2 linked regions of the Homo sapiens genome follow. The protein of the gene in region 2 interacts with the protein of the main gene of each other region in a biochemical or structural test. Each region holds a gene or a part of one and is shown on either strand. Other genes may lie near its edges.

What was found. Proteins that work in one complex are often made in the same cells at the same time.
Region 1: the proteins of PAG1 (region 2) and ZAP70 form a complex in vitro, tested with the Homo sapiens proteins (one study listed by BioGRID).

Annotation. Positions count from the first base shown.
Region 1 is NC_000002.12:97,709,323-97,716,585, reverse strand, and holds the start of ZAP70 (tyrosine-protein kinase ZAP-70), read right to left. Parts: upstream 3,011-7,263; 5' UTR 2,912-3,010; intron 2,705-2,911; exon of another isoform or gene 2,671-2,704; 5' UTR 2,592-2,670; intron 1-2,591. UniProt on the Homo sapiens protein: Tyrosine kinase that plays an essential role in regulation of the adaptive immune response. Regulates motility, adhesion and cytokine expression of mature T-cells, as well as thymocyte development.
Region 2 is NC_000008.11:80,983,068-80,990,088, forward strand, and holds part of PAG1 (phosphoprotein associated with glycosphingolipid-enriched microdomains 1), read right to left. Parts: intron 6,200-7,021; exon of another isoform or gene 6,003-6,199; intron 4,400-6,002; coding exon 4,303-4,399; intron 2,311-4,302; coding exon 1,709-2,310; intron 1-1,708. UniProt on the Homo sapiens protein: Negatively regulates TCR (T-cell antigen receptor)-mediated signaling in T-cells and FCER1 (high affinity immunoglobulin epsilon receptor)-mediated signaling in mast cells.

The DNA.
Region 1 (7,263 bases), on a different chromosome or scaffold from region 2:
ACCTTCCACTTTATTCAGGTCTCTGCCTAAGTCACCTCCTCCAGGAGGCCTTCCCTGACCTCCCTCTCCAAAATAGCCTCTCCTTCTCTCTCTAGCCCTGACCCAGCTTTGTTGTTCTTCACCACCTAAAAGATGATATTGTATCTATTGGTGACATAGTACCTTTGTCCCTGCCAGAATGTAAGCACCACGGGAGTGGAGCCTTTGTCTTGTTCTCCTACCTATACCAGCATGGCACAGAGGAGGTGCTCAATATACCAGGTACCTACAAAGGTCTGCAGTCCACTGGGATGGGTGGGGATGCCTCTGAGCACCGGTGGAACCTGACACCTGGGAAGGGGTGAGGGGCCACAGGGGCTTCCTTGGGTGGAGGATGGCGGGAGAGGAGGGGCCCATCCTGAGGATCCTGGCCACAGGCTATTCCCTCAGCCCAGAACTGCGCTGCATCCTTCTACTGGGCCTCCGGCTTCAGGCCTCCTCCGTTGTCCCATCCTCCCAGAAGCATTCCATGAGCCCTGCCCCCTCCCCAGCCTGGGTCAGGCACCTCCCCTAGGCTTCCAGGGTCCCCATCCTCCCACATCACAGCCCTGATGGCCTCTGTCTCTGCTCCTCAGTCCCTCACCAGGCTGAGCTCCCCGAGGCAGGGCCCACGGCTCTGTCTTGTTTTCTATGGAAGCTCCTGCTTCCTCCCCACAAATATTTGTCAAGTGTGTAAGGACAATCACAACAGCCTCTGTGCTGGGGACTGCACTACCCTTTGCGAGCATTAGCCATTTATTCTAATTCTCACCACAACTACATTTGGTGGGAACTGTTATCCCACTCCTCAGCTAAAGAAACTGAGGCTCGGAGAGGTCAATGTCACTCTCAGAACATGCAGCCTGCAAGGGGCCACCAGGATTTGAACTCAGGTCTGTCCAATGCAGCAGCCAGCACTAACCACTCCAGCAAATGTCTATTAGGAGACCCTGGAGAGCTGGGCTGGTGCGGGGTCAGGGTCAGATTCCCCAACCCAGCACACTCTCCAAGTGTCTGTTGATTGAACAATGCCCTTCCACCGCCCCTCCAGTGAGGCCCCCAACTCCGGCCTCCACTGCCTGTGTGACCTCAGCAAGCAGCGGTCCCTCTCTGGGCCTCAGGCTCTGTGACTGTAAAAGGGAGATGGGAAAAGGCGGTGTGAGTCAGGAGGATAGGGGCTGATAGAGACAATGGAACAGGGTGGGACTGTCCTGGGCCTTGTAGGCTGTTCACAGGATTCCTGTCCTGGACATGCTGGATGCCAGTAACACCCGCTGGGTCACAACCCAAACTGTCTCCAGGCACTATCAACTGTCCCAGGGAGACGGGAGGAGGTAAAATTGGCTCTGATGAGAATGGCTGCCTTAACCCTGTACCTTGGGGTGGGGCAGGGAGTGGTCAGCACGGGGTGGTCTGGGTGCTGCAGCCCCGGAGAGCATACAGGAACTGTGGAGTCCAGAGCCCGAGGCCACCCAGAGCTAGTGAGGATAATGAGGGTTTTAGTGAGACCTTTCTGCAGCACCTGTATGTGCCGGGCAGTGTGGATACAGTCACTCTCTTTATCCTCCCGAGAGCCCTGGGAGGGAAGCACAGAGAGATGCGGTGACTGGTCCAGTCACACAGCTGGTGAGTGGCAGAGCCAGAATGTGAAGCCAGGCCCCCAGGCTCCAGAGTGTGCACATCAACACCACCCCCGCAACACTGCCAGGGCAGTGGGGCTGAGGATGGAGGGCAGGTGTGAAGAGGAAAAGGAAGCTCTGGATTCAGCAGGAGGCAGCTTCACAGGTGGCACCTTAGGAGTCCCTGACCCTGATCTCTCAGCAAGGCATTATTAAACACCTCCTGTCTGCCTACTGTTCCAACCAAGACGAGAGTAATGAATCATCTCGAGCTGCTCACCTCATGAACTCCTGTTCCTTCCTGTCGGGGATGCTTCCTACCTGGGACACATTTCCCAGCCTCTCGCCAACAGTCAGGAACCAGGCGCCTGCCAGGTGCCCATATCTGCATGTGCATTTAACAGATGCACAAACTGAGGTCAGAGAGGCCAAGCAACTTGCCGAGAACACACAGCAGTTGAGGAGAACTCGGTGTTTTGCTCTTTCTCTCTCCAGGTCTTCCTCTAACCTGAGCTCGCCTACAAGTGGCTCAAGCCTGCCCTGGACTCCTCACAGGAATCACAGCATTCTGCTGATGGAGCTCACGGCCCTGGTGAGCAGCCCCCTCATCTTCACAGAGTGCACATGCGCTTTCTCTGGAGGTTTCTCTGCCTCCGAGAGCCAAGGATGCAGCCAAACAGGGCCCAGCAGGAGCCCAGGGACTGAGCAGGCCTCACCGTGTCCCCTGAACAGCCCCGCTCGGCCAAGCCTCTGGAGGGGGAGCTGCTTCCCTCAGCGTGGCCACAAGCCCCGTCTGCCTCCATCTCCAGCCAGTCACCACCCAGCCCAGTCCTCCAGCTCTCCTGGTCCTCCCAGCAACCTCCTGACTCCCAGTTAATATTCTGTCTTCCTCCTCCAGACACAGCCCACCATGGAGACGGTGGCCAGGTGCCACTCCACCCAGGCACCACTTACCTGGGGACGTACAGGTGGATGTCCAGGCAAACAGGCCACTTGCGGGGTCTCTGGTCCCAATGCCAATGGAGAGCCGGTTCTGGGTGAGGAATCGGGGCTTACAAAGCCGGTTTGGATTTCCCTGCAGCCCAAGCCCCCAGCCTGAGAGGGAGGCCCTGCCGCTCACACTCTCCGCACACACCCCGGGGGAGGATGTCACACCCCGCCAGGGTTTCTCACTCATGGATGGGGGGGGTTCATCCTCTGCCAGGTCTCCCAGAGCCCCCTGGGGTGGCCCTGGTGGCAGGACACAGGCAGAAGGCCCGAGGACAGCCGCTTACCTGAATGCCCCAGCAGCAGCTCTGAGGCCCACGGTGGGCCAGGCCTGCCCGGAAGGCCTGGTGTCTGCTGAGCTCCGGCAAGCAGGCTTGTCTGAAACTAACCTATTTCCTGGATGCGAAGACAGGAAAGGGGGCTGTGTTTGATGTTTACATCAAAGTCACAAAGTGCTGTGCTCAAGGAAAATCACAGGCCACGTGCTCCAGGGAGGCAGAGGGCATTTCCGGGGCCCAGCACTGCCTGCCCAGCTGCAGGATGGGACTGAGAGATGGGAATGAGGCTAAGCAAAGGCAGGGTTTCAGGAAGGACGACTCCAGCAGCAGGAACCGTCAGAAGGGAGGAAGCCTGCATACCTGGAACCGGAGGGTAGGCAGCAGTGGTGGGAAGGAGGGGAGTCCCAGGGCTCATGGAAACTGGAATGCCCCCATTTTCCCCTCAAAGGGGCGTCGCCCTGGGGCCTGCACCAGCTAGACAACCCAGAGGAGTGATTTGTTTATTCCACAGGCAGGTTAGAGCTGGAGGGAGGAGAAACCCACTGAGTCAGCCCATACCCCGAAGGTGAGAACCCCTTCTGTGCCAGGCATCTGGATGGCAAGGACAGCCTGCCCTTGCTCTCCAGTGGCTCGCAGGCTTGTTGGGGGCAGCTGAGTCCACAGGGAGCCAGGGCTGGGAGGCCGGAAGCCTGGGCACTGTGTGTCCCCAGAGTATCCCCAAGCCAGCCTGGAGGATGTCAGGGATGCGTTCCAGGAGGAGTCAGCCACCCAACCGAGACACAGAGCCAGGGCATCCCCAGTGCTAGCCCGGCCCACCTGGGACCTTTCCCACGAAGCTGAACCTGGCTGAGTGCCATCCCGCTGTGGCCACCACCTCCTCCTCCTCTTCCTCTCCTCCCTTCCCTCACCCTGTGCACCCCCTACCCTTGGGCCTGGGGCCACACCTCATGCACTCTCTCAGAGAGGGGCCTGCAGAGCCACTCCCTCGGCTCCATCTCCCCTCTAGTGCCCCAAGGCCTCTGGGAGCCCCTTGCCCACCACCTCCTTGCTTTCTTGGGCACTAAGGGAGTCGTCACAGCTCTCCTGTCTGTGGGGCCTCAGAGACCTGTGTGGAACTGCCCTGGGCCCACTGTGGAGACTCCTAAAGCTTTTCTTCTTGGGGTCCTGCTGCCCTTGTTAAGTGGGCTTGTGATACCCTACCTTGTTTTAACCTGAATTGACTCTCCCTTAGCTAAGAGAGCCAGACAGACTCCATCTTGGCTCTTTCATTTGCAGCCCCTTACCCACCCCGCTTCCTCAAGGACTTAATTTGTGCAAGCTGACTCCCAGCACATCCAAGAATGCAATTAACTGATAAGATACTGTGGCAAGCTATATCCGCAGTTCCCAGGAATTCGCCCGGTTAATAGCACCCAGAGCCCCGGCGTTTGTGTCCGGTTGATAACGCCCAAAGCCCCGTGTCTATCACCTTGTGATAGATTTTAAGCCCCTGCACCTGGAACTGTTTGCTTTCCCGTAACCATTTATCCTTTTAACTTTTTGCCTGCTTTACTTCTGTAAGATTGTTTTAGACCCCCACCTGTCCTTTCTAAACCAAAGTATAAAAGAAAATCAAGCCCCTTCTTTGGGGCTGAGAGAATTTTGAGCACTAGCTGTCTCTCAGTCGCCAGCTAATAAAGGACCCCTGAATTCGTCTCAAAGTGCGGCGTTTCTCTGTAACTCGCTCGGTTACAACAGGCTCAGCTCCCCAGTCTGCCTGAGGATCCCCTCACACCCTACCCCGAAGCCTCCTTGGGGACCTCCTTTCTGGCCCTCTACTATCCTCTGGCCGCCTGAATCCCCTTTAGAAAATCTGAGTTCCGGCTCTAGGCTACTTTTCTCCTTCATACAGCCCCCTCCAAAATGGTGTTTGCTAGCAGCCTCCCTTTTCCCCAGCGGCATCTTGAAACTCCAGGTGCAGCAAGCATCCCTTCACATCCATGCTGGACGCTCATTTCTTGGAGTATTGAGAGAAAAAGACACCGGCACCCTGAAGAGAGGAGAAATTACAGCATCAAATCACATTCATACTACAATAATGAGAGTCGCACTGATTATGTGCCAGACATTGCTGTACGCACATCACAATTAATAAGCCATTCAACCTATTTTCCAGATAAGGTAAGTAAAGCCCAGAGAGGTTAAGAGATGCCAAGTGGCCAGGTGGGATTGCAGCCCAGGCAGCCTGACCCCACCCACGTGCTGCTGGACATAAAAGAAGAAAACTTTGGTTGTAAAATATCTCCCCGAAGGAGGCCAGCGCCCCAGGGAGCTGGAAGCTGAGCCAGCTATGGGACAGGGTGCCTCTGTGTGGGTGGGGGGCTTCCAGTTTCCAGGGTCTTCAGGTCCTGAGAAGGGGATTCCCAGCCTCTGCAAGGCACTGGCCCTACAACCCTTGAGCCCCCCACTTCCTGTCCCAGAGGCTGGTCTGGAAACTACAAAGCCCAGTGCTCAGACAGCTCTGAGATTGGGCTACAGATAATCCGAGATTGGCATGCAGATAAGGTCCTCTGTTCTGCCAGAGTGGAAGGAGGTGGATGCATCTTTTGAATGTTTACAGTAAAGGGCAAACGGATGGAAATGTGGGCTAGGAAAGTTGCGGTGCCTTTGCCTCATCGGGTTGGGGTAAACATTCACTCTACTCATGCCAAGAGCCTCGAAGAAATTCATCAGTCACCCCCATATCCTCAGGTCTTTGCCCACACCTCTTCACCTGCCTATTTCCTAGTCCTCTTTCAGGTCTCCAATTAAGCGTGTTTTCCTCCAGGAAGGCTTCCCAATCCTCAGACCGGGCAGGGATGGGCTTTCTGTCCATTTCACCTGGAGCTGAGCAGGTCCAATCTGGCTGCACAGTTAAGAGAACACAAGCCACTGCTGGGAGACGTGCAGCAGGGAGATAGGGTGGAGGCTCCAGCAGGCCCGAGAGGAGATACACCCCAGTGCAATGAGCCCCAAAGGAAACAGGTCCATCCAGGGCCCCTCCTGGATTCCCTCTGGGTGTACAGAAAAATGGTGACTTTTTTTTTTTTTTTTTTTGAGACGGAGTCTCGCTCTTTCACACAGGCCGGACTGCAGTGGCGCTATCTCGGCTCACTGCAAGCTCCGCCTCCCGGGTTCACGCCGTTCTCCTCCCTCAGCCTCCCAAGCAGCTGGGACCACAGGCGCCCGCCACCGCGCCCGGCTAATTTTTTGTATTTTTAGTAGAGACGGAGTTTCACCGTTAGCCAGGATGGTCTCGATCTCCTGACCTCGTGATCCACCCGTCTCGGCCTCCCAAAGTGCTGGGATTACAGGCGTGAGCCACCGCGCCAGGCCAAAAATGGTGACTTGTATCTCCTTTCCTTCTGGTTCTTTTCTGGTTCTGCCACTTAACCCTGAGGGACCGTGAGCACGTTACTTAGCCTCTCTGCGCCTTGGTTTCCTCCCTTAGGAAACGGGGATAATGGTACCTGTCTTGTAGGCTGTTGTGAAAGTTAAAAGAGGCCTAAAGGCAAATGCTCCATTACTGCTACCACCACCGTCATCTCTCATGTCTAGTGACTGCGCGTCCGAGTGCAGCAACGGGATTCCCTTGCGCCCTCCAGGGGCAGCTCTCCAGTATTGCAGGCTGCCAAGCACAACTCAGGCGTCCCTGAAGGCTGAAAGTGACCACCGCCCTGCCCTGAAATAAAAAAAATTAATCCAGCTGGTTTAAGTCAGAAAAGAATTGCTTGACCACAGCAGCCACATGCTGTGCTCTCCCCTGGGGGCTTCTCAAGTGGATGGCTCCTTCGGAAGCCTTCAAACTGCCATGGCACTGCCACCTCCTGAGACCCCTGGCTACTTATTTATTCAATACTGAACACCCGTTCTATGCCAGACTCTTTTCCGGGTACTCTGTTCTATGGATCCGCAGTGAACAGCACATGAAAATCTCTTCCCTCATGGAGCTGACATTCTAGTGGGAGAGACAGAGAATGAACAAAATAGATAAATATTTCATAGAGTATGTCACATGGTTACAGGTGCTAAGGAGTAAAATAAATCAGAAAGGGTAGGCGAGGTCTTGAGCATGTAATTTTGAGCCAGTCAGGGCATGCCTCGGAGGGGATAACCTGTGAATCAAGACTTGAAGGTGGCTCACGCCTGTAATCCCAGCACTTTGGGAGGCTGAGGCAGGCAGATCACAAGGTCAGGAGATCGAGACCATCCTGGCTAACGGTGAAACTCCGTCTCTACTAAAAATACAAAAAATTAGCCGGGCGTGGTGGCGGGCGCCTGTAGTCCCAGCTACTCGGGAGGCTGAGGCAGGAGAATGGCGTGAACCCAGGAGACGGAGCCTG
Region 2 (7,021 bases):
TCCAGGATCGAGCTCTGGTTCTCTTTCTCCTCACTGCTGTCCTTGCTCTTCCCTCTCCACCCACAGCAGTCCCCTCCTCTTCCCTTAAAAAGCCAGTTGCAAGCTCTAGCTTCAGGGGCCTCACACTGGGCATCCCCTCTGCTTCACGTGCTCTTTCCACAAAAGCACAAACCTCACCCCCTTGGATCCTTTAACTCAAACGTCACCTTCATAGCTGGGCAGACCCTGACCACTCTATCCAAAACTGTACTCCCCACCTGTTTTCTCAGTTCCCCTTATTCGGTTCTATTTTTTTCTCTTATAAACTTTAAACTTTATGTCTGTCTCTTCCCACTAAGATGTAAGTTCCACAGGGCAGGGATTTTGTTCATGTACATGTTTTGTTTCCAGGACTAGAAGACTGTGTGGCACACAGCAGGTGCTTATTAAGATCTTTTGTTAAATAAATGAATGAATATTAAATACTTCAAACCCTCAACTCACTTAAAATTAGGGTTGTTTATATAAAGATGATGGATTACTCATTTTTACTATATTGTGGAAGGATAATTTTATTTCCAGATGATTATTTCCAGTTTTTAACGTGAAATCTGGAGAACTGTTTACTAGCAATGGTTAGACAACTCAACGTCTTATCTTTCTAATGCTTGTAAGTAAAAAGCTTTGTCTGGTTTAGGCAGCATGAACTTTACATCAGGTTTATGGTCTTTGGTTCTATGAAGGGCAAAAAATTGGACTGCATTTTTATATTTTATGAACATGTTCATAAACCCTTTTATTGGTGCTCTCAACAGCTGATTTCATGGATAATATGAAAAGTTGAAATGCATTCAGAGAACAGCACAAAGAATGATTTTCTTGGTCTAATTTATACAAACAGAGTGAGGGTTCACCTCTGGCCATGAACTACGGAAGGTTTTTAAGGCTACTAGTGACTGGCTAACCTGCTACTTGTCCTTCCTACTAAAACTGAATAGAAGAGAGAACCTTCCTCTTTTTCTGTGTAGAAAACAGAAATTAATTATTAGTTGCCTGAAGTAGATGGGCCTAGTTAAATCCCAAAGAGATTTTAACAACCAGGGATGTGAACTTCATCGTGGCTCAGATATCAAGTTATCAGACACATGCAGAAGGTGTGGATTGCTAATGCATTTTACAGCTTTGTTGAATATCTAAATTTAGGAAGTATAGGCTATAGTTTAGAAAGGGTCACAAAATAAGATCTCCTACTGATTTATATGAAGGTTTGTACAATCAGATATAACCAGGGGCACCTGTGAGTTGGTTCCCATGGTACCTGTTGCTATGCATGCTGATTTTTGGGGATCCTGGAAGGGGAAAGGTCACCATGCTGCTGAGGCAGCCAACAAGCAGAATGGGTAAAATGTGTGGGCAAAGTGTCCAGTTTCTGTATTTAATTTGTGGACATCAAAATGAAGCAAACAAGATTTGGCCCTAATTAGACATGATGGAAAAAATGTGAAAATATCCAAGTAAGGTGCTGAGAGAAATATTTGATAAATACAAGTTTTTGGTATTTTATTACTTGGAGGGGGAAAAAGCCAAACACAGCTTACATGAAAACAGCTCTCATCATTCAACAAACTGGAAAGTGTTTGCAGATATTTCCCAGAACAACTCCAGGGCCAGCTAGATTCCTAACCAGAACAGGAACCCACAAAGACAAAACAAAAACGCCAGTGCCCACCTTGTTAGTTTCACTGGTCGTGTCTGTGGCACTCTCTTCCGCCTCTCCCCCTTCCTTCTCCTGAAGGTTTTCATTCTCGTCCAGAAGCTTAACAGGGACAGGTGGTGGGGCCTCCTCTTCTGGATCACATGAATTTCCAAGGATACTCTCTACATTAACACTTTGACGACATTTTTTGTTTCTGTCCACCGAGGCATATTCAGCAAACTCAGCTTTGCCTTCAGTCTGGGGCCCTGGGAGCTCTTTCGAGGCAGAAGTAGATTTTGCCTTGCCACTGTGGCCTTTCTCCAGGTGTGCAGCTGCAGCCACCTCCTTGATCTCTTTCACAGTTTCATACAAGCAGTCCTCCACCATGTTTTCTTGGGAGGAGCTGTCCTTGAGCACTTCATAGGGCCCTTCCATCCCCAGCCCCTGGTCCCCGTCCACACTTCTCGCCGTGAGCATGGTATCCACTGCGCTCTCGGGAGGGATTCTGGGCAGCTCCCGACTCTGATGACATTTTGGTTTCCCTGTGCTGTCCTGGGAATCCAGCAGATCCGAGGCCGATGTCTGGACTTCCTCGTAATGCTGCATGCAGGTCAGAGTACTGTCCTCTGAAAGAACTAAAGCAGCACACACATTAAAAGCGGAGAAAGGCAAGTCTTTCAATAATTATTACCGAGAATCAGGTAATATAAAGTTAGGTTAAATCAAGATGCGTGCTTTTTATTTAAGTCTCAGGCACAAATTATAGTTGTTATGACCATCAGTTGGTATCCTACTTCAATCACAGTTTAAAATAAAGCTGTTCATTATATCTTTCCCAATACAAGATTTAATAAGTTATCTTGGCTCTAAGTGTAGTTCACAATTACTTTCCTTAATGTCACTCCAATGAGAGACTCTTGTAGGCAGATTGTCCAATGTGACCAGAAGATGACCAGTTTGATGCCGCTGAACTATGGGAGGCTGGACACCAGAAAGGCAGCATGTGCAGTGACCACAGTCCCCAGCACCACTGACCCCTGCCTGTGTGGAGGGAATTATTGGTAGCCACCCCCTTTCACACAGGTGACTTTTGTTTGGCAGACATAATAGAAACTACAGGGCAAACATGCACCCGTCAGCCATTAGCACAAAGGGACTGGCACCTCATACCTTGCTTCCATCTCATCCCGCCACCAACATTCCTACCTCAAATTAGAAAAAAACCAAATGTGAAATTCTTGGCCAGCCACAGATATGCTATTGTGTGAAGCTGTTCAGTCGTCCCTTTGTCAACCGTGTTGTGAGTGCCTGCCATGCACCAGGGATGGTGCAGGGTGCTGCAGACACATCATTCAATGAAACAGAAAGCCCTGCCCTTAGGATGCAGACACAAAGTAAGCAAGTTATTCCATTAGTGTCTCACTCTGGGGGAATTAGAAATAGTGTTTCCAAGGGGTATGTGAAAAAATGACAACGGATCCCCCAATCCTTCTGAACTTACCAACACCCCTGTGTGTTCTAAATCCCTGATCATCACGGAGGGGGTGAACTTTTGCTCTCTGGTTCTAGTTGTCTACATCATGGTAGACAGAGAACAGGCACTGGTGTCCTGATTACCCCACAGTTTCCTCATCAGTAAACAGGGGTAACAGGACGCCCTCTTACCTCAGGTAAAAGCATGGTGTAAACTCTAAAGCATGAAGGAAACCTAGCTGCTCCTTCCATCAGCAAGAGTACACAATGCATGATGCAGAGGTTATGCAGAGTGACTGAGTGCGTGCCCAGGGATCAGACTGCCTGGTTCCAACTACAGATCCTTAGCCCGCTGACTATATGATATCAGGCAAATTAGCAACATCTCTGTGGAAGGCAGAACGACCCTGAAAAATGTCTGTCTCCTAATTCCTGGAACTTGTGAATGTGTAATGTTTTGTGGAGGGTATGGAGGGATTAGGGCTACAGGTGGAATTAAGGCTGTTAATTAGATGACTCCCGGATGAGAGGGAAGCCTGGATTATCCAGGTGGGCCCAGTGTAATCACAAGGGTCCCTATAAGTGAATAGGGAGGGGGGAGGGTCAGAGAGGGATGTGAAGAATGAGGGAGAGGCCAATGGATTCTCCTTGAGGCTTCAGGAAGGACCACAGGCCTACGGATGCCCTGATTTTAGCCCAGTGAGACCCATTTCAGACTCCTGACCTCAGAATTGCAAGTCAATAAATTGTTATTTTAAGGCATGAGGTTTGTGGTAATATTGTTACAGCAGCAATGTGCCCAGTTTTGTCACCTTTAAATTGTGAGGAGTAATAATACCTATCTTACAGAGTAGTGTTATTATTAATAACAGTAATCTCGTGGGGTAAATGAATTAGTACATGTAAATGTACTAAAATGTACTAAAAGAGCAAATGAATTAGTACATGTACCAGTCTTAGAACAATGCCTGGCACACAGAAGTGGATTAATAAGTAGCAGTATTCATCCAAATGAGGGGTTCTGCTAAAACTGCTAGGAATACTAAAACTGAGCAATAACACATTTCCTACTTTTTGAGCTATGTATTTTGAAACCTAGGACTTCCAGAGGTGATGAGGCCTGTGTGGAAAGCTGGTGTTTTTGCAGAACTTACTGTCCCCATTGGTGAGTGCCCCATTCTGCTCACTGCTGGCAGGAGCATCTGTTGCCAGGCTAGTAACTGAACGGCTGAACATCTCCTTGTCTGAAGGCTGAAAACAAAAACAAAAACAAAAACAAATGCATCACATTGCTAAGAATCTGGACTGCAGAGCAGAGGAGAAGATCCATGGCTTTTTCAAAAAATTAAAACAGCAGAAACAGAAAACAGAATCTCCTATAATAGTCCCCCCTTATCTACAGAGGGTACATTTCAAGACCCCCAGTGGATGCCTAAAACCATGAGTAGTACTGAACCCTATATAGACTATGTCTTTTCCTATCCATATATGTTATACCTATGATGATGTTTAATTTATAAGTACAGTAATTTAACAATAACCACTGACAATAAAACAATATAATATAATGAAAGTTATGTGAATGTGCTCTTCCTTTCTCTCAAAATATCTTGTATGGTTCTCACCTATTTTTGGATTGTGGTTGACTGTGGGTAACTGAAACTGCAGAAATCAAAACTACAGATTAAGGGGAGCTACTGTTTTTAGATTTAAATTAAGTAAAATAAAATACACTAAATTGAGTTCCTTGTTGACTAGTCACATTTCAAGCGCTCAATAGCCACATGTGGCCAGTGGATACCATATCCAATAGGAGATACAGAACACTTCCAGCACTGCAGAAAGTTCTATTAGACACTGTTGTCCCAGAATCTTAGGGGCACTGGGAATCTTCCAAAGCCATGTGCAGAGCTTCCTGCCTGGTGACCTACACAGGGCTATAGGCAGGTTGTGAGATATCAATTCCCTTAGCTCAAGGCAGGAAGGGAACTGGTTGAAAAAGACCACAGCAGCCTCATCCTTACAACACAGGTGCTGTAAATCATTATTGGTAAAGGTGTGCCATGCTATGAGAAACGTGGAAAGGCATCACCCTTTGTCATGTGAAGGGAACAGACTTAAATCTGGTCAGAGATAGATAAGGCTATTGATTTCTGAAACTATTTTAGAACCAGCAAAGCCTCTGGCTGCTAGGTTCACAGAAACAATAATATGCTGAAAATTAGCTCTGCAAACTTTTTATTTATTTATTTATTTATTTTTTAAGATGAGGTCTCACCTTGTTGCCCAGGCTGGAGTGCAGTAGCATGATTATAGCTCACTGAAGTCTCAAACTCCTGGGCCCAAGAGATCCTCCTGCCTCAGCCTCTGGAATCGGTGGGACTACAGGTATGCACCACTATGTCTGGCTGCTCCCATAAGAGATGGGATCTTGCTATGTTGCTCAGGCTGGTCTCGAACTCCTGGCCTCAAGCGATATGCCCACCCCAGCCTCCCAAAGTGCTGGGATTACAGGCGTGAGCCACTGTGCCCAGCTCTGCAAATCTTTCTTATTCTTACAAATAAACTTAGGACATTTGGAGGGAAGAATGGCATCAATAGTTGGTTTTCTGCAGGGATAGAATGTGTAGATGCTACCTAGAACAATATGCCTGGCTCAGCTATAGCTAAGAGTAGTCAGAAAGCAAGTTGGTGTTCATGTATTTCTTTAAATACCCAACTTGTCTCAGGTTGCAGCCCAAATCACTGCAAATGTGATTTGCTCCCTGTTCTTCTCACAGCCTGCACGTTCCAAGAGGCTATCTCATGCTCCAGGATTCTACAAGGAAAGTTGTGATGTAAACAGCACACAAACCTTTGCTAGTTGGCCTCACAAATTCTCTGACTCTTGATTGGAAGCCAGTAATACACAGCAGATAGTTCATGCTGTGCAATGATCCAAAAGTGTATTGGAAGTCAGCTGTTTCCATCCAATGCAGCTCATTCACGTCTGATGAGCCCCCAGTGAGATGGGTCACTGTGTTAGGTTGCCAGGAACTTGCAATGCAGGTGCTAATATCCCAGAAATGATGTTATAAATGGGCAGGCATGGGTGTGGGGAAGGAAGACTCCCAGGTGGGCCCATAACAGCATAATCGATCACAGCTGAAGTTACCATAATCTAGACTCTAACTACTATTCCTAATCTTTGCTTCTATGAGATGAAGAATCCGCAAGTTGTATAAGATCTAGGAGCTGAAAAGCTCTTAAGGAGAGCTGGGTGGGCGAGCGTGTGTACATGGGTGCCAGTGTCCGGGTAAGCATGCGTTCCTGTGTGTGCTCGCGCTCTCTCACAGACATTCACATCCATATAAATGAGGCTATGGGTTGGGGCAATAATGAATTATATGGTGGATGAGGAAGAAGGCAGGGGATGGAAGCCAGCTTTTTCCTTTTATCCACCTGCCACTCTCTTCCTATCTCGCCCAGGGCTGCTGCTGACCTTGAGTAGAACAGCGGGAACCCAAGCTCTAGGCCAGTGGCTCTCACACTCGAGCATACAACTGGATCACCTGGGGTGCTTGCGAGCCTTTTACTGGGCCTCACCCCCAGGAAAATTCGCATTTCTAAGGAGCTCCCAGGTGCTGCTGCTGCTGTGGGTGGAGGTCCAGGCCACACTGCAGAAGAACCCCTGCTCTAGAAGGAAGTGAGGAATGGCGGTGGGAGCCCTTCCCCAGCCCCACCTCACCACCCAACTGGCACCAGGAGAATGGTGGAGTGACGAAAGGCAGGGGCCTGGAGTCTGCATGGGGAGAAGCGACAGTGGGGCGTTCCCTCCATCCCTCCCACCCTCCCTGCTGAGGCCACCACAGCAGCAATCACCAGGCAGAGCAG